2 linked regions of the Homo sapiens genome follow. The protein of the gene in region 1 purifies or fractionates together with the protein of each later gene. This does not show direct contact. Each region holds a gene or a part of one and is shown on either strand. Other genes may lie near its edges.

Evidence for each region.
Region 2: the proteins of SCGB1D2 (region 1) and COL14A1 purify together in Homo sapiens (affinity purification with mass spectrometry; 2 studies listed by BioGRID and IntAct, with this or other methods). This does not show direct contact.

The regions. Positions count from the first base shown.
Region 1 is NC_000011.10:62,236,544-62,247,057, reverse strand, and holds SCGB1D2 (secretoglobin family 1D member 2 precursor), read right to left. Parts: upstream 4,820-10,514; 5' UTR 4,751-4,819; coding exon 4,696-4,750; intron 3,770-4,695; coding exon 3,582-3,769; intron 2,389-3,581; coding exon 2,359-2,388; 3' UTR 2,246-2,358; downstream 1-2,245. UniProt on the Homo sapiens protein: May bind androgens and other steroids, may also bind estramustine, a chemotherapeutic agent used for prostate cancer. May be under transcriptional regulation of steroid hormones.
Region 2 is NC_000008.11:120,127,109-120,136,707, reverse strand, and holds part of COL14A1 (collagen alpha-1(XIV) chain isoform 1 precursor), read right to left. Parts: intron 1-9,599. UniProt on the Homo sapiens protein: Plays an adhesive role by integrating collagen bundles. It is probably associated with the surface of interstitial collagen fibrils via COL1.

The sequences.
Region 1 (10,514 bases):
TGTGACTCACATGAGGCCCAAAAAATGAGATATAAACAAGTATGGCTGAGCACAGAGTGCCCCAGGGAAGAGGAGAGGAGGAGACAAAGGCTCCCAGAAGCAGGTCTTGAAGGTCCTTGTGTGCAACACAAGGGTGTGGACTCGCTCCTCCAGCAGTGGTTCCTCTCTGGTTTTCTCCCAGTGATGTGAGAGCTCCATAAATCCTTGTATCTGCCACACACAACAGCACGCTATGCCTGCTGATAGTAAGTTTGATATATCTTGGTTCTATTTTTAAGTGTACATAATTTCTGGTGTGATTAAAATACAAATTTCTTTTAAAAGCAATGTTTAATTAATAACAACTGTTATCTACTCTCCTGCCAATTGTGTAATGGTGACTATTATCATAAAAAGATGGGCTTGGGGTAAAAAAATAATTTCCCTTACTTGAAAGCCTTGAGAACCAGTGCCCTCTGGTCATTTAGAGTTGTTGAAAAGAGAATAGGATCACATTTTAAATTTAGGAGACTTACCCTGGCATGAATGAGGAGGATGTATAGTAAGAAGAGTTCATAGAGGCTGCAAGACAATGTAGAAGAATTTGGTCAGAGCTGGGGAGGACATAGACCAGACTGTGATATGACTGTGTGATGGGAAAGAAGGAACTCGTAAAGGTGATTCTGGGGCAATGGAGGGAATAGAACATAGTGCACTGTTAGGAGTCAGGAGGGAGGGGAGCTGTCATTGGCTGCCTCATGTCCACCCTGAAAGATACCCACATCCTAGTTCCTGAAATCTGTGAATGTTCCATTATATGACAAAAAAAGCACTTGGCAGACACGATCAAACATAATGAGATGGGGTGTTATTCTGAATAATCTGCAGGGTCCCAAAACCAAACCTGTGTATTTTGTGATTAAAAGTCAGGGTGGTGGCTCACGTCTGTAATCCCAGCACTTTGGGAGGCCGAGGTGGGTGGATCACGAGGTCAGGAGATCAAGACCATCCTGGCTAACACGGTGAAACCCCATCTCTACTAAAAATACAAAAAATTAGCCGAGCATGGTGGCGGGCGCCTGTAGTCCCAGCTACTCGGGAGGCTGAGGCAGGAGAACAGCGTGAACCCGGGAGGTGGAGCTTGCAGTGAGCCGAAATGGTGCCACTGCACTCCAGCCTGGGCGACAGAGCGAGACTCCTTCTCAAAAAAAAAAAAAAAAAAAAGCCAAGGTGGGTGGGGTTGATGTAGAAAGAAAAGAAGGGAACATATCATGGAGGCAGAGGTTGGAGTGATGTGGCCACAGGACCAGGACAATTATTAGCCCAGAAGCCAGAAGCAACCCTTAGTGAATTCCCCCCAAGAGTCCCCAGAGGGAGCGGAGCCCTGCTGCCCCCTAACGTCTTCACAGTGATACTAATGTTGGACTTCTGACCCCCAGAGATGCCTGAGAATCAGTCGTTTTAAGCCATGAAGTTTGCAGATTTTTGTTCCAGTAGTCACAGGACACCAAGCAGGGAAACTGTGGTGTCTCTCTGTGTCCTGGTCAGGGTGCTTGCTGGGTGGGTGCCTTAGCCTGGATGGGCTCATGGAAGGGAGAGCAGGCTGGGGGCAGACCCTGTGCTCAGTTTTACATCCTGCTCCTGAAATGACTGTGGAGTGCGCACTGGGAGCTGTCCAGTTGTCAGGGGGTGCTGGTCTCTGGAGCTCTTGGGAGAGCTTGAGGAAGGAAGCATTCACCTCAGGTGCTGGTGAGTGATGCAGACGCTGAGGAGTGCTCTGAGCGTGGGGAGTAAAACAATGTGAACTCCAGGTTGAAACCTAAAGAGGACCCCAAATTGTGATAAGTGGAAAATGAAGTATACTGGACATGACGGAGGACAGAAAGCATAGTGCAGAGAGAGCACCAAGCAGGCTGACTGTGGGTCTGAGGGGACATCAGAGTAAAGTCACTGATAGGTGGGAACCCTCGGCCTGGATACCCATTCAGGCTGGGGGTTCTCTCAGTGTAAGACCAGTGGAACATTTCAATTCCTGTGTCCTTGTTACCATGGTTTTTATTCACGGCTGCAAGATGGGAAATCTGTAAGGAATGCAGGATAATTCCTACCAAATATTCTCCTCTGTGACACCTGGACTCAGGCCCCATTAGTAACAGGATGCTGGTTCTCTGGAGTTAATTATCACCCACAGCAAAAGGCCACTCCACTATGGAAACCACCCTGTACTCAAGGCTCGAGACTGCAGGATTATAACAAGACCAGTGGAGACGTGGAGAGCAAGTGATTTATTAAAGCAAGACGTTGAAACCTTTACATTCTGCAGTGAAGATCAGGGTGTCATTGAAAGACAGTGGAAACCAGGATGAAAGTTTTTACATGTCACACACTACATTTCTTCAATATTTTCACCTAAAATAGGAAAAGAAAAAAGAAGGTGGGGTCAGTCATGCTGCTGCTGGAGGTGACAGGCTCACATCCAAGAGGCCAGTGGGATTCTGCCCCCAAAGGCAATTGGAAGGGCAGAGGCAACAACTCAGTTTGGGAAACTGAGGCCTAGACCTGGTGGCCTCACAGCACCCATGCCGGTGATGGAGCAGCCTTTTCTTGCCAGGCCAATAGCCCTGGGGTGATCCGGGAATGAGGCCCAGGATCCTCATGGAAGCAAGTGACGAGGGTTGGAGAGAGCAGCAAGAGGTTATTGCCTGGGCTGTCCCAGGGCTTGGAGTCTCCTGGTTCCTGCAGTGAGGGACCCAGGACTGAGAGGCTGGTCAGGGCTGAGAGGGCTTCTGGGAAGCTTGGCTTCCAGGAGACTCCAGCCTCCCCATGTGGGAATTCTGCCTCAGGGCCCGAGCACCTCTCAGTCCCGAGCCTGCAGCTTCCATGAGCATTTGCAGCTAAACCTCAGGACAGCAACTCAGAGGCAGCCAGGCAGAGAGGCCCCTGGAAAACCTCTGATTTCTTGAGAAAGACAGAGTGAGAACATCCCGCTTCCATGGCACTGCAGGAGGTAGACTAGCTAGGGTCTTGGACGACTGGCCATGGTCAGGAGAGTGTCGTGGGTGTGGAGGGGAGTATGGGGTCTCAGGAGCTGGGAGGGGCTCCTTCCTGGCTCTGCAGAAGCTGCAGAGAAGTCCAGCCTGCCAGTGCTACATCTGCAGGAGCCCCTGCTCTATGTCCCTCCCTGCCTTCCTCTCCCTGTTCAAGGCTCCCATGCTCCCCAGGACATTCCACAGTGACTGTGTCCATTACATGAGGGCAGTTTGGTCTCAGGAAAGCTCCCAGCAGCGAGGCGGCCATGCTTGGCCCTTTACCATTTCTGCCTGGGCCCAGGCTCACTCCCCATGTCCTCAGCACACTCTGGGGACATGGCATCCAGGCAGGTGACATGAGAAGGAGGAACATGCAGGAGGCTGTGTGCAGCTGAGTTGAATTCTGCAGGTGAAATGGTGGCACCCACCCTGTGGCCCCAGGTGACCTTCTCAAGAGGTGACCAGCAAGGCAGCTGCCCCACCACCTGTGTCCCCAACAGAGCAGCAAGCTGACCTCACTTCATACTGTGCAGCTGACCAGAAGCCTTAACAAATAAAGGAGAAAGAAGTTACCAGGACTTCCGCAATGAGGCTTCGTTTCTGAAGGGACATCTGATCCGTGCATCTCTTCACTCCTAACTTGGCTGCAACAGCTTCCGGAGGGGCATCAAATTTGGCAAGACTTAACTTGAACAGAGGTTCACTAATGAAGAAGAAGTCTAACAGCTCAGAAACAAGAGCTGGGCAGAACTCGGCATTGGCTGCAGCAAAAGAATAAAAATATAGTTGATGTTAGGAAAGTCGATTTTTCTCTTTGGCTCCCTGACGTTAGACCAGACAGGATCCCCTGGGTTATATGTTCACATACATTTGTTGTGCTGATGACAATGCCAGACCCTTCAGGTGTGACTTCCTCAAGCTCTCACAATAAAGGAAAGCACTTCATATCAACAGCCAAACTCTTTTTTTTCCCTTTGTCACCCAGGCTGGAATTCAGTAGCTCAATCATGGCTCACTGCAGCCTCTACCTCCTGGGCTCAAGCGATATCCCCATCTCAGCCCCCTAAGTAGCTGAGACTACTGGTGCATGTCACCACGTCCAGCTGATTTTTCATATTTCTTTTGGTAAAGCTGGAGTTTCGCCACGTTGCCTAGGCCGGACTCAAACTCCTGAGCTCAAGCAATTCACTCTCCTTGACCTTCCAAAGTGCTAGGATTACAGGCATGAGCCGCCATGCTTAGCCCACAGCTAGACTCTTTTGACAGTATTAATCTTTCTTACTCCATTCTCATAGCCTCTCCTGGCAGAAGCGCTAACTACCAGTGATAGGAGGAGGCTCAGGGAGGGTGAGCATTGTGCCCAAGGTCAAAGGGCTGGGAAGTGGCGGATCCCAGATTCACCCCAGACCTCACATTACATCATCTGACACAGATCCCACCCAGGAGTGAAGCTCAGGCAGAAGAATTCCTAATATTTGCCTGCACTGATTTTCAATAAAACTTCGTAGGTGCTGGGGAGTAGAAGAAATAGCTCTGAACTTGATGAGGGGCTTGTTCAACAAGCACAGAAAAAGGTTTGGAATTTTGGTTTTGTGCAGATCCTAACCCCAGCCTGAATAGGTGACCTCGTGCTTGGAAGAGGGTGCTTCCCAGGGGCTGGAGCTAGACTCATGACTGATGTACTCACCCTGGTAGCAGCAGAGGGCCAGCGTGACCAGCAGGAGACACACCGACAGCTTCATGGTGGCTTGTTTTGCTGTGAGCTCAGCTTTCACAAACAATGAGTGATTTGGACTCCACCCCAGGAGCCTGTGGAGCTGCAGAGCCCAGGGCTATTTGTACCTAGGGAGTCTAGCTGGTACTGGTCATGAGGCCTGGCTCCCAGCCCACCTCTCCTTCCCAGGGCTGTTGCCATCCATCTGTGTCACCTCCCCACGCCTCCCTGCACTCTGACTGGGGCAGAGCACAGGAGGGTAGCCCTGCAGGAACTCTGCTCTGTGTTCCAGGTGAATGTTCAGGCACCTCTGGAAATATTCCTGGGATTCTGTTTCCTTCTGAGTTTTGCTGATTATTTTTTTTCTTTGTATCAGTTCAAGGGCACAGGTAAATTCTGACTTTGGAAGGCACAGGAAGCTGGAAGGCTGTGTTCTGGTTATGGGGGAGCAGGGACATAAGGAAACCCTGCTTTGATCCCCCTGCATGTCTGACAACCAGTAGGCTTGTTTCAGTTGCACATTGAGCAAGTCTAAACAAGACCTATTCCCCTCAGCCCCTCCCATCACCACCATGTTCACTGCATAGGTACCTAAAACCTAGTTCAATGCATCTTACCTTTGGAGGATTTCCTGGGGAAAAGCAACTGCTGCACCTGTTCTCTAGCCTGTCTCACTCCCAAACCTGAGTCTTGTTTATGAGTGCAGCTATAAATATGGCCAAGACTCACATTTTCTCTCTACGAGGAGCAAGCTTTCTGTGATGTGTAGCCACCCACATGTTGATGGGTTGACCTGATGATTACATAGCCTAACTTTTTCCAAGTAGCTTTTGGAGTGTCCAGAGCCAATCATGCATCGGACAGGTACTGAGAGTTCTTTGCTCTGGGGCTCCAGGAGGGGAAGAAGATGGAAAAGAAGAGACAGATGATCAGGGTGAGTGGTCACTTCCCCCCAACCTCTAGGCTCAAGTTTTCCACTTCAAATCTAGCTGTGCAGCCTGAGCCAATCCCATTTTTAATAGAAAGGGAAGGAAGCACCCAGACAAAGCAATACACACCCTCCTGCCCTCCTGCTGTGATGCCTTTGTGTGGTGTGAGCAGGAAATCAATCACTAGAAATTTCTCTCTCTTTTTTGTTATTATACTTTAAGTTTTAGGGTACGTGTGCACAACGTGCAGGTTAGCTACATATGTATACATGTGCCATGTTGGTGTGCTGCACCAATTAACTCATCATTTAACATTAGGTATATCTCCTAATGCTATCCCTCCCCCCTCCCCCCACCCCACAACAGTCCCTGGTGTGTGCTGTTCCCCTTCCTGTGTCCATGTGTTCTCATTGTTCAATTCCCACCTATGAGTGAGAACACGCGGTGTTTGTTTTTTTGTCCTTGCGATAGTTTGCTGAGAATGATGGTTTCCAGCTTCATCCATGTCCCTACAAAGGACATGAACTCATCATTTTTTATGGCTGCATAGTATTCCGTGGTGTATATGTGCCACATTTTTTTAATCCAGTCTATCATTGTTGGACATTTGGGTTGGTTCCAAGACTTTGCTATTGTGAATAGTGCTGCAATAAACATACGTGTGCATGCGTCTTTATAGCAGCATGATTTATAATCCTTTGGGTATATACCCAGTAATGGGATCGCTGGGTCAAATGGTATTTCTAGTTCAAGGTCCCTGAGGAATCGCCACACTGACTTCCACAATGGTTGAACTAGTTTACATAATCATGTGATTTTTTCATTGGTTCTGTTTATATGCTGGATTACATTTATTGATTTACGTATGTTGAACCAACCTTGCATCCCAGGGATGAAGCCCAATTGATCATGGTGGATAAGTTTAATGCCCACAAGAGAAAGCAGGAAAAATCTAAAATTGACACCCTAACATCACAATTAAAAGAACTAGAGAAGCAAGAGCAAACATATTCAAAAGCTAGCAGAAGGCATTGAATAACTAAGATCAGAGCAGAACTGAAGGAGATAGAGACACAAAAAACCCTTCAAAAAATCAACGAATCCAGGAGCTGGTTTTTTGAAAAGAGCAACAAAATTGATAGACCACTAGCAAGACTAATAAAGAAAAAAAGAGAGAAGAATCAAATAGATACAATAAAAAATGATAAAGGGGATATCACCACCGATCCCATAGAAATACAAACTACCGTCAGAGAATACTATAAACACCTCTATGCAAATAAACTAGAAAATCTAGAAGAAATGGATAAATTCCTCGACACATACACCCTCCCAAGACTAAACCAGGAAGAAGTTGAATCTCTGAATAGACCAATAACAGGCTCTGAAATTGAGGCAATAATTAATAGCCTACCAACCAAAAAAAGTCCAGGACCAGATGGATTCACAGCCGAATTCTACCAGAGGTCCAAGGAGGAGCTGGTACCATTCCTTCTGAAACTATTCTAATCAATAGAAAAAGAGGGAATCCTCCCTAACTCAATTTATGAGGCCAGCACCATCCTGATACCAAAGACTGGCAGAGACACAACAAAAAAAGAGAATTATAGACCAATATCCCTGATGAACATCGATGCAAAAATCCCCAATAAAATACTGGCAAACCGAATCCAGCAACACATCAAGAAATTTCTCTCTTAAATGAACTTACTTTTGAGAGGATTCACAGCCTAGGCCCGAGCTTTCCATTCGCAGCTGCGCAATCGAATCACTTGGAGCTTTTAAAATATACTGACTCCCCAGGTTTCTCTCTCTGGGGATTTTGATTCAGTAGCGTTGGGTTGACTCCCTGATTCCTACACTGTTTAAACTGCTCTGGTGTTTCTGATGGGCAGGAGGGCTGAAAACCACACAGAAAGACATGTATGTAAAGAGGGGACCTTATGGGCTGTGTCATCAGAGACAACTTGGCAGGTTTGTTTGAGCCCCAGCTGAGGGCAACAGTGGCTGTCACTTCCATCACACAGGATCATGAGGAAATCCCTGAGCCAGCTCTTCCGCCACCACCAAGGAGTGGGAGGGCCAGTGGTGAGGCTCACAGATACAAGGCTCACAGATACAGCCTCATTTGTGGGCTCTTGGACCTTAAGAAAATTATTCAGCTTATGTAACCTCAGTTTTCCTATTTGTCAAAGTAGGCTAGTAATTGTGCCTACATCATTGGGTTCATAGATGATCAAATGAGTGTGTTCATGGGGGTGTGTGTGTTTAAAGTTAACTAAGTTCTGGTACATAGTAGTTCTCAATAAATTCTAACTCCCATTATCTTGTCCCACTTGTCATATATGTCATGGTTTGCCAGTAGTTCCTAGTTTAGAGCACAGCCAAAATCCACTAAATCACCTACTTTCAGAACTACATGGACACCTAGATACACCATTTCTCTCTGACATAAATGGAAAAAGAAATCCAGTTCATGATCTCTGAGTCTACAGACCCATGGACTTGGGCTTCAGGACTGAGACGTCTTTCACAGCAGACAGGTCTGTGAGGCATTCATCCTAACTGTGGACCAGAGCTTGTCCTGGCACAGGCTTGGCATTCACCTTGTCAGCTCTATGGTCCACCGGGGAGGATGTGTATCTCTGAGAGAGGACTGTTTGCTTGTACTTTTATCATTCCTATTGCCCTTAACACCTGCACAGGGTTTTTTAGTTTTCATCATTGATATTTTTAATGGGTCCCTCCTCCTTACCGAGTTCATGCAATATTTCAGTTCATTCTTTCCACCCACGGGCATTGTTGCCTGACCCCGATGCTTTGGTCAGTGTTGCCCTTTACAGACACTGCTGGAACCATGCACCTCTCATTTGCAGCAATTCCAAGGCTGTTATTTTACAAATGTGTAATCAGTTCATGGATACAAGTTTTCCTGGACTGTTAGCTCCATAATCACAGGGCCAGTATCTGCTTTTGCTCATCTTGGCTCAGCACAGCGGCTGGCATGGAGAAGAAGATCAGCAAACAATCTTTTAACAAATACATCATAAAATTATGAATCAACAAACTGCTAAATGGGTGACATTCATGTTCAGTGTAAAAGAATGCTCATGGTGCCAGGCTTCCCTGTGGGCAGTTGAGGGTGAAAGATGAGTAGTGTGGTGGTGACTGTGAAAGAAACTCATCGGTTTTCCACATCCCTAGAGAGAACAGTGAAACGAGGATTTTGCCGCATCAACCACTCCAACTCCTAATCTTCTAGTGGAAGCCAAGACTTCTAAAACAATTTCAGGGAAATTTAATATCAACTCACCAAGCTCTATATTGACTAATAGGAGCTCCTGTTTAGTTTCTCTTCTAATTAGGAGGTTCAGAGCTTCTGAGTTCCCAGGGTCCCAGCAGCAAAGCAGCCCATGGGGACAACTCCTCTGCCCTTCCCCAGCCATGAGCAGAGTGCTCCAGGGAAACAGGGGGAGGCATGGAACGTTCTGGGTGAAGGCACTGAGACGTGTTGCTGGGAATATAAAGGAGCATATCTGAGTGCCGCTCAGGGACACATCGGATTTGATTCACACACACACACACACACACATACACCCACACACAACACACACACACACAGACACACACATATGCACACATACACACAGACACACACATACACACAAATACACACACACAGATACACATACACACAGCCACACATACACACACAGACACACACAAAACATACACACATACACACACAGACACACACAAACACACACACATACACACATGCACACAGACACACACATACATGCAAATGCACACATACACACATACACGTACACACACACACACACACAAAGTGTGGAAGAAGCCCAGGGAACAACATGAGAGAAATCGACAATGTATAAACCAAGTGGCTTGTGAGGGACACCAGATAGCCAGGTGAACCTGAAACAGACAGGTGCACATGGTAAAACAGGGATGGGTTTGTGGCTGGAGAACAGGATGGGCCAAATGGAGGGGAGCTTCCACTTTCCTCTATGGCTTATGACAGCAGAATGGGTGTGAGAGGTGAGACACCTTCAGATTTTGCTACCCCACTGATTTTTTTGGTTTTCAAATCTCAGGTCAAAATAACATAGACTTTTCATACCCCTTAGGGTGCTATTATAAAACAGACCAACAAGCAAACTAATAAATTAGAATATAATATTGTAACAAGGATGTACAGAGGTAGCAATTCTTGTGCACATTTGGTGGGAATGTAAAATCTGCAGCTGCCATGGAAGAGTATGGGGGCCTCTCAAATTAAAATAGAAAATATCATAGGATGAAGGAATTTCTCCTTTGAGGATACATCCACAAAAACTGAAATCAGGATCTTGTAGAGATATTGCATACGCATGTCTTTAAGGACACTATTCACATCCATCAGGAAGGGGATCCAATCCATTGTTCATCCCCAGATAAATGGATGAAGCAAATCTGTGCATTCATGGAATAGAATCTTATTCAGACTCAAAAGGGAAGAAGATTCAGACACAGGCTGTAGAATTCTATATAGATGAACTAGAGTACATTATGCTATATGAAATAATCCAGTCACAAAAACAAACATAGTATGATTCCACTTATGCATGGTATTTACAGTAGCCAGATTCATAGAAACAGAAATTAGAATAGTGGTTTCCAGGAAAAAGATATTGAGAGTTATCATTTAGTGATAGAGAGTTTCAGGTTTTTAAGAGAAAGTTTCTAGAGATTGGTTGCACAACAAATCTCTCTCATGAATGTACTTAATACCACTAAGGTGCACACTAAGAAATGCTTAAAATGGCACTTTTTACATTTTCGTACCACAATGAAAAAAAC
Region 2 (9,599 bases), on another chromosome or scaffold:
ACAGGCATGAGCCACCACACCCAGCCCTAACATAACCTTTTTATCAAAACTAGACAGCATCACAAAAAATAAAAATCACAGAATAACCCTTATGAACATAGATATAAAAATCTTTCACAAAATATTATCAAATAGCATTTAACAATGTAAAAAATAATAATAATGATGACCAAGTAGAGCTTATTACAGGAATGTAATATTGGTTTAATATTTTTAAATCATTTAGCATGTTTAGTATGTTTCTTCCCTCAGGGAGAAAAAGGCTAACCATCAAGATAATATCCACTAATCATTTAGCATGAGATTTTATATATATATATATGTAGTGTGTGTGTGTGTGCGTGTAATCTAAATAGAAGGACAAAAAGTATTTCACAAAATTCAATACACATTCAGGATTTTAAAGAAACTCAGCAAACTAAAAATAGAAAGGAACTTCTTCAATCTAATAAAGGGCATCAATGAAAACTCCATAGCTAGTATCACACTGAATGGTAAAATATTGAATGCTTTTCTCCTAAGATCAAGAATAAAATAGGGATGTTAACTATTACTAGTTCCACTCAACACTGTACTAGAGGTCCTAGCCAGTGCAATCAGGCAAGAAAAAGAAATAAAAGGCAGAAAGAATGGGAAGGAAGAAGTAAACTGACTCTATTCACAATCAACAGGGTTGTTTACCAGAAAATTCTAAGGAATCTACCAAAAACAAAACCCTACTTGAACTAATAATTTAGAAAGACTGACAGACAAGATCAGTCAGCAAAAAATCAATTGTATTCTTATATAATAGCAGAAAATAAATAAAAAGAAAAAAATTTTAAATTTATTTACAATGACATCAAAAACATAAAATAGTTAGAAATTAATATGACATGCAAGGCCTCTATACTCTTCAGAATACCAAAATATAAAAGTGTATTACTGACAGAAATGAAAGAAAGCCTAAATAGAGCAGTGCACCATGTTCATGGGTTAAAAAAAAAAAAGTACTCTGTTAGAATGTCTTTAAGATAATCTATAGATTCAAAGCAATTTTAATCAAAATCTCAAAAAAGTCATGGACAAATATTCTCTAAGACAGTTTGCTAAAAGTTAAACTGCTGGTTATAAAGTATGCTTATTCCTTTTAAAAAGTATTAATGGGTTGGGCACAGGGCTCACACCTGTAATCCAGCACTTTGGGAGGCCAAGACAGGCAGATCACCTGAGGTTGGGAGTTCGAGACCAGCCTGACCAATATGGTGACACCCCATCTCTACTAAAAATACAAAAATTAGACAGGCTGTGGTGGTGCGCTTCTGTAATCCCAGCTATTCAGGAAGCTGAGGTGGGAGAATTAGTTGAACCTGGAAGGTGGAGGTTTCAGTGAGCCAAGATTGTGCCACTGCACTCCAGCCTGGACAACAGAGGGAGACACTGTCTCAAAAAGAAAAAAAAAAGTATTAATGCATATTGCCAAATTGGTCTCCAGAGAGATTATGCCAGTTTATATACCACCAAAAGTATATGTGTCTATTTTTCCATAAACTTGCTGGCTCTGATATTTACAAATTCTTTCATGTATGAAAAAATTGTAGTTCAACATATAACATCACCATGGCTAAAAGTATGACTGCACATCTTTCATTTACTTAAGCTGTCTTTTGTTCGGTGAACTCTCTAGCATATCCTTGGTCATTTTTCTATAGGATTGTTCATCTGTTTTTTGTTTGTTTGTTTGTTTTTTGTGATGGAATCTCACTTACTCTGTCACCCAGGCTGGAGTGCAGTGGTGCAATCTTGGCTCGCTGCAATTTCCACCTCCCAGGTTCAAGCAATTCTCATGCCTCAGCCTCCCAAATAGCTGGGATTACAGGCATGCACCACCATACCCAACTGTTTTTTGTATTTTTAGTAGAGACAGGGTTTCGCCATGTTGGCCAGGCTGGTCTCGAACTCCTGACCTCAAGTGATCTGACTTCCTCGGCCTCCCAAAGTGCTGGGATTACAAGCGTGAGCCACCACACTCAGCTAGGAGTGTTCATCTTTTTATGAGAAATTTTTGTATTTAATATGTGGCTCTTTTTCCATCATATATGATAAAACACGTTGCCCAATATTTATTTTTTTTCTTTTTTATCTCCTATGGTTTATGACATGCATATAAGTCTCTTTCTCCTTTGGAATTATAGCATTTTCCTATATTTTCTTTTAGTATTCTTACATTTTCAATTTTTAAATTGAAATCTTTGATCATCTAAAACTTATTTTGATGTAAATGAAAAAGTTTTAACTTTTATTCTCCATGTCTATCCAATTAGTCCAATACCACTTATAGAATAATTTACCTTTTGATCACAGGTTAACAATGCTATATTTTATTTTCGAATCTATCGATTTTCTATTTATGTGTGACTATTAAGTAATTGTAAATATCAAAACTTTATAATATGTTTTAATATTTTCTTTTAAGTTTTCTTTCTGATTATTTTTGACTAGGTACCAAAAACTCCTCAAAATTGGGATCATGTTAAATTAGTAGACCAATTTAGGTAGATCGACCTTTTTTATACAATAGTCCATCTTTACATCAAAAAAGAATATATTCTTTGTTTATTCAAGCCAGTCATCTTCATTTCTTCATGAGCACTTTAAAGAGTTATATAAATTTGACATTTTGAGTTTATTTCTACATATTATATACATATATGTTTTATTTCCTGTTAATGGATTTTTCTTAATCACTTTTAAACAAGTTGTTTATTAATTATAGTAAAGCAATTTTATTTTTATATTAATTTTGTAACCTACCTTGAATAGTTTAACATTTTTTCAAAGTCTTAAAGTTTGTAAAATTGATTTCCTTAATTTTTTCTGTAGATGATATCTTTCTTCTTACCTTCCAAATTTTATGTTTTTCATTTCTTTCCCTTTTCTTATTACTTTGGCTACTATCTCCAGAATATTTATCCTGGAAACTTTGTCTTGTTCTTATTTTTAATAGCAATGCTTCTTTGGCATGACTTTGATTTTGAAGACACATGGCTAGACAGACTGTTAGAGAAGACAAACACAAATATACTGATATAAATGTATCATGTTTAGTAAATTTCCATCTGTGTAAACTTTATTGAGCTATTAATCTGAAATAAAATGTTAAATTATTGTAGTAGTTATGAAGAATATCCTCTAACTTTTTTCTCTTAACTTTTTAACATGACAATTATATTAATCCATTTTCTAATACTAAACTTACCTGTAAAATTTGAGCCCAACTTGATCATTGTGAATTATTCTTTTGGGTTCTATTTACTAATATGCTATTCATATCAATAAGTACATCAATATTAGTGAAATTAATCTGTAGCTTTTCTTTTTTATTATGCTGTGTCAAGTTTTGATATCAGTATTATTTTTTCCAGTTTTATAAAAAATAACAGAATTTTTTCTTCTTTCTCTATACTGTACTTTGGAACAGTTATTTTTTTTTTTTTTATTTTTTTTTTGTTTGAGACGGAGTTTCGCTCTGTCGCCCAGGCTGGAGTGCAGTGGCGCGATCTCAACTCACTGCAAGCTCCGCCTCCCGGGTTCACGCCATTCTCCTGCCTCAGCCTCCTGTGTAGCTGGGACTACAGGCACGCGCCACCATGCCTGGCTAATTTTTGTATTTTTAGTAGAGACGGGGTTTCACCGTGTTAGCCAGGATGGTCTCGATCTCCTGACCTCGTGATCCGCCCGTCTCGGCCTCCCAAAGTGCTGGGATTACAGGCGTGAGCCACCGCGCCCGGCCGGAACAGTTATAATAGCACGGTATTTTTATTTTTTTACATTTTCATTAGCATTCAATTGCAAAACCATGGGGAGAGTTCAGTACTCTTGGAGAGGTTACTTTTTAACAACTTTTTCAACATGTTTGTGTCTAATGTTTTATTCATAATTCCTGTATAATAAAAAATCAGTTTTAGTAATTTGTACTTTGTTTAAAAATAACTCATTTCATATCATTAAAATAAGAATACTGCCCAAAACACAGCCTGGGTGACAGAACAAGACTCTGTTTCAAAGAGAAAAAAAAGAACGTTACCCAAAACAATATCCAGGTTCAATGTTATTGCTATCAAACTACCTACATCATTTTTCACAGAAATAGAAAAAAAAAAAATTCTAAACAAAACCAAAAAAGAGCCTCAATAGCCAAAGCAATTCTAAGCAAAAAGAACAAAATTGAAGGCATCAAATTATCCAACTTCAAACTCTACTACAAGGCTACAGTAACCAAAAAAGCATGGTACTGGTACAAAAACAAACACACAGAAAACGGAACAGGTTAGAAAACACAGAAATAAAGTCACACACCTACAACCACCTGATCTTTAACAATGTCAACAAAAACAAGCAATGGGGAAAGGACTACCTCTTCAATAAATGGTGTTGGAATAGCTGGCTAGCTGTATGCAGAAGAATGAAATGGGACTCCTACCTTTCACCATATATGAAAATTAACTCAAAATAGATTAAAGGCTTAAATGTAAGATCTAACATTATAAAAAAATCCTAGAAGAAAACCTAGCAAATATCGGCTGGGCACAGTGGCTCATGCCTGTAATCCCAGCACTTTGGGAGGCCAAAGCGGGTGGATCATGAGGTCAGGAGATCAAGACCATCCTGGCTAACACAGTGAAACCTCATCTCTACTAAAAATATAAAAAATTATCTGGGCATGGTGGGGCATATGCCTGTAATCCCAACTACTAGAGAGGCTGGGGCAGGAGAATCGCCTGAACCCAGGAGGCAGAGGTTGCAGTGAGCCGAGATAGCGCCACTGCACTCCAGCCTTGGTGACAGAGCAAGACTCTGTCTCAAAAAAAAAAAAAAAAAAAAAAAAAAGAAAGGAAGAAAAAAGGAAGAAAACCTAGCAAATACCATTCCAGACACAGGCTTTGGCAGTGAATCTATGACTAAGTCCTCAAATCAACTGCAACAGAAACAAAAATTGACAAGTGGGATCTAATTAAACTAAAGAGCTTCTGAATAGCAAAAGAAACTATCAAGAGAGTAAATAGACAATCTACAGAATAGGAGAAAGTATTTGCAAAGTATGGACCCAACAAAGGTCTGATATCCAGAATCTATAATGAACTTAAATTATTCAACAAGCAAAAAACAAATAACCCTATTAAAAATGTAGGCAAAGGGCATGAGCGGATATTTCTCAAAAGAAGACATACAAGCAGCCAACAAACATGAAAAAATGCTCCACATTGCTAATCATCAGAAAGATGCAAATCAAAATCACATTGAGATACTATCTCACACCAATCAGAATGGCTATCATTAAAAAGTCAAAAAAAAAAAAACAGATTTGCAGAGAAAAGGAAATGCTTATACACTGTTGGTAGGAATGTAAATTGGTTCAGCCACTGTGGAAAGCAGTTTGGAGATTTCACAAAGAACTTAAAAAACTACCGTTCAACTCAGTAATCCCACTAATGGATATATACGCAAAGGAATATAAATAATTCTACCAAAAAGACACATGCACTCCTATGTTCATCACAGCACTCTTCACAATAACAAAGATGTGAAATCAACCTAGATGCTCATCAATGGTGGACTGGATAAAGAAAATGTGGTACATATACACCATGGAATACTACACAGCCATAACAAAGAACAAAATCATGTCCTTTGCGGCAACATGGATGCAGCTGGAGGCCATTATCCTAAGTGAATTAACAGAGGAACAGAAAACCAAGTACCACATATTCTCACTTATAAGTAGGAGCTAAACAGTACACATGGACATAAAGATGAGAAAACAGACAGTGGGGACTAATAGCGAGGGAAGGAAAAAAAAGGGGGTGAGGGTTGAAGAACTACCTTTTGGGTACTATGCTCACTACCTGGGTGATGGGATCATTCATACCCTAAACTTCAGCATGACACATATACCTATGTCATAAACCTGTTCTTGTATCCCCAAACTTAAAATAAAAGTTGGAAAAAAAAGAATCCATTTCATCCAGGCTTTCTAATTTATTGGCATATTTTTATTTTAATTACCATTAAATTCTTTTAATTTTCTCCAAGTTAGTGATGTTTCCATTTTACATTTCTTTCCTTGTACACGTAGGCTTTCTTTATTTTGCTTTTTAAAAGACAAAAAGCTGAATAAAATGCACAGTGATTTTTGTTTAAGAGAGAAATATCAAATGGAAGGGGAAAGCAACAGTAAAGTAGGAATAAGGGAAGGAAGAAGAAAAGGGAAAATGATGAAGAGGAAGAAGATGAGGAGGCAGAGGAAACAAAGAAAAAATAAGGGGAAAAGAGAGAAAAGAAAACAGTATAAAGGCAGAAAGGATACAAGATGACCTATCTGGCCAAATGTGGGCCAATGTTGCCTAGATTGGTGCTACTCAAAGTAGCTGGTCTATGAACTGTTACTGGTCCTCAGTGAGATAAGGAGCTTATGCCAATATGCAAGTCTATGTATTCTTTTGCTTCCTTCGTCAGAAAAGCTTTGCTATGAAAAAATAATGATAATCTCCGTTGAACTAACAGTGTGCTTGGTGAACAGTGCGCTTATTGACATATTTGATTTACATCATCGTGTAGTTTTTGTCTTATCAGAGGCAGGTAACAGTTTGTGGATGGGCACCAACCAGCAGTAGCACCAAACTTGATCCTTCACCAACCAGGCCTCTGATGAACTGCATCTGTCCCTCATCTTATTGAGGTTCTCCAGCTAGTTTCATGGCCTCAGTCACTGTTTTAACCTTCTAGATCTTGGGCACTATCAGACATCTAGATGGGCAGTTTAACCCATATTCAAGAAAGTTCAACACACATAGGCAATCAGTAAATATTGATTGATTTAATAGTTAATGACTGAATGATCAGGGCTAATGTGTGTACAGCTCGCAGTTAATGAACTAAACAATTTACACTTCGCCTAGGGTCAATGACACTTGAAATTGGCAGACACTCTGCTCCCAAGTTGTGTGCCCCAGTGCAAAGCTGTGTTATCCAGATAAAACAGAACTGTTTTCTTCTCCCATGCCATAGGTTTGCACAGAGAGGCTTCCTTTTTCTAATTTACAGAAAAACTATATTAGGTTAGCAGCATCCCTGTGAATCACTCAAACGCAAGGAATTTGACTGAAAATTAGCCTCAGTTATACAGCTGCTCAATCAGTATTAAACTCATGCTGTATGTTCTAAATGACAGAAGGTAGAGCCATTCCAAAAGTATGGCAAATTGGAATGACAGCTGCTTGACACAAGAATGTTCTTCACCTGGCTTTTTTTCCCTCTCTTCATTTTTTTCAAACACTGACATAGTTCATCTGTCAAAGAAATGGGAGACTGTTTTTAACTACAATGTACATCTGTAATCAGTATAAAGGGTAGCTTTACATCTCAGTTTAGACATCCTTTCCTTCAGGAAGTTTTCCTTGATCTTCCAAGTCTGGGGTCAGGTGCTCTTCCTGTTTCCTATAGTAGTAATCTTTATTTTCCATTCTGCAGCATTGAACACTACCCCGTAGTTAGCTATTGGCATTTCCATTTGCCAAAGCATATTATTCCCTACTGTATTTTGAATGCTTAGCACAGTGCCAGCACATGGCAGGAGACAGGGCTGGGAAGTGAAGGAAGAACAGAAGCAAACAACCTGCAGCAAATTATCATTTTTAGACATCAATTAAATGTTCTCCTCTTTGCAAAAGCCAGAGACAAAAGGCCACCCAGAAATAGATCTTTATCCAATAATGGGCCCTCTGACTGCTCCTAGATAAAGACACACCCTAAGACATTGCAATGGACTTAGCAAAGCACAACCTACCTCTGGACCAATTTTTGTAAGCAACTCAGATAATTTCTAGGAGAAATGAGGCAAAACATTGCTCTCTAAAATTCACAGAGACACCTTTCAGGGTAGCTCCGACAAAGGCCCATAGAGAGAAAAGTGCAACAAGACCACTAATAAAAAAATTACCTGGAGGAAACGGGGAGTCTAGGCTCTAAACTTTGACTTAAAGAACGCTCAGAATTTCCTATAGACTCTCTTTTATATTCTCAATGCCCGCCTCAGCCTCCCAAGTATCTAGGATTACAGGTGCCCACCACCACGCCCAGCTAATCTTTATATTTTTAGTAGAGATGGGGTTTTGCCATGTTGGCCATGCTGGCCTTGAACTCTTGACCTCAGGTGATCCTCCCAAAATGCTGGGATTACAGGCATGAGCCACTGTGCCTGGCCCCATATAGACTTTTCTTAATCATATTTCTGTCACTTGCTGTCTTTGTGATCCCATACAAGGTGCTTTTTATCCTTGAAGCTCAGTGATTGCTAAAGGAGGAATATTATTTTCTTCCCCAAGTAACTGGGAGACTTAAGTGTGTTTCTAAAAGAGAAAAAGGCAGATACCCAGTAAGTACTCAAAAAATATGCCAACATTTCCAACACACACACACACACACACACACACACACACACGCGCGCGCACACACACACACACACGTCACAGGAACAGGATGCAGTTTGGTCTACAACAAAAGCTTAGTGTATACAGAAAAGTAACTGGATCCCTGCCATTTTTTATTTACTCACAGAAGAAGTCAAGGAGAATGATTATTTTCCTAACATCCAGCACTATCGAGGGGCAAACCTGCCAAGAAGAAAGTTTATTTTTATCACTTTCCTTTAAACTTTCTCCCTCCACTCTACTGTCAGTTCCCTGGGGGGATCAACTAGTGCCCCGTTTACCAACAACTTTGTTCTCAATGGACTATCATAATCCCAGATAATTTGTTAACTCAGTGGTGCTCAAACAGCACCACTCCATCATGCAGCAGTTCTAGGAAGGCTCTTGTCCTTTAAAGGGATCTTAGGTTACACTAGACAGGCCAGGAAAACAGCAGTCATTTGGCTGGGTTTAGATAACACTGACTGCGAATGTGGCTTTACAGTGGTATCACTGCAGAGGCTGTCAACTGAAAACGAGCAAAAGACATTTGTGTTTTACTGTGTGACACTAGGAAATATTTAAGATTGAAAGGGAGACTCCCCAAGAGGTCTTCTTAATGAGCTAGGGGCTTTCCCTAGAGCCCCTCAAATCAGATCGATTTGTTCAGCCCATTTTTAAGAGCAGCCCTGGCTGATTCTGAAAAATCAAGACATGCGTGGAGGGCCCCAAGAGTTCTCTGAAATCCTCAGCTGGACGGTTCGCAGCAGGATAAGTGCCAAGAGCCTCCTCCCATCAATCTTGAAGGCTGGGATCCATCCAAAACTGCTCCAGGAATCCTGATGGGTTCCAAGGAATACTTCCCAGGGAATTACTAAGAGGCCTTACCAGTGGGGCGCCTGTCCTTTCAAAGGGACCCACAGGAGGTCAGGGCTGCAGTGGAGGTTCAGGTCTATCCTGGCTCAGGGATCCCCAGGGAGAAGGAGAGGATGGATACCCAGTATTTACTGAGAGAATAAGAAAGATAGCCTGTACATCATGGATGAACCTTGAAAATATTTTGCTAGGTAAAAGAAGCAGTCACAAAGGACCACATATTGTATTCTTCCATTTATATGAAATGTCCGAAATAGGCAAATCCATACAGACACG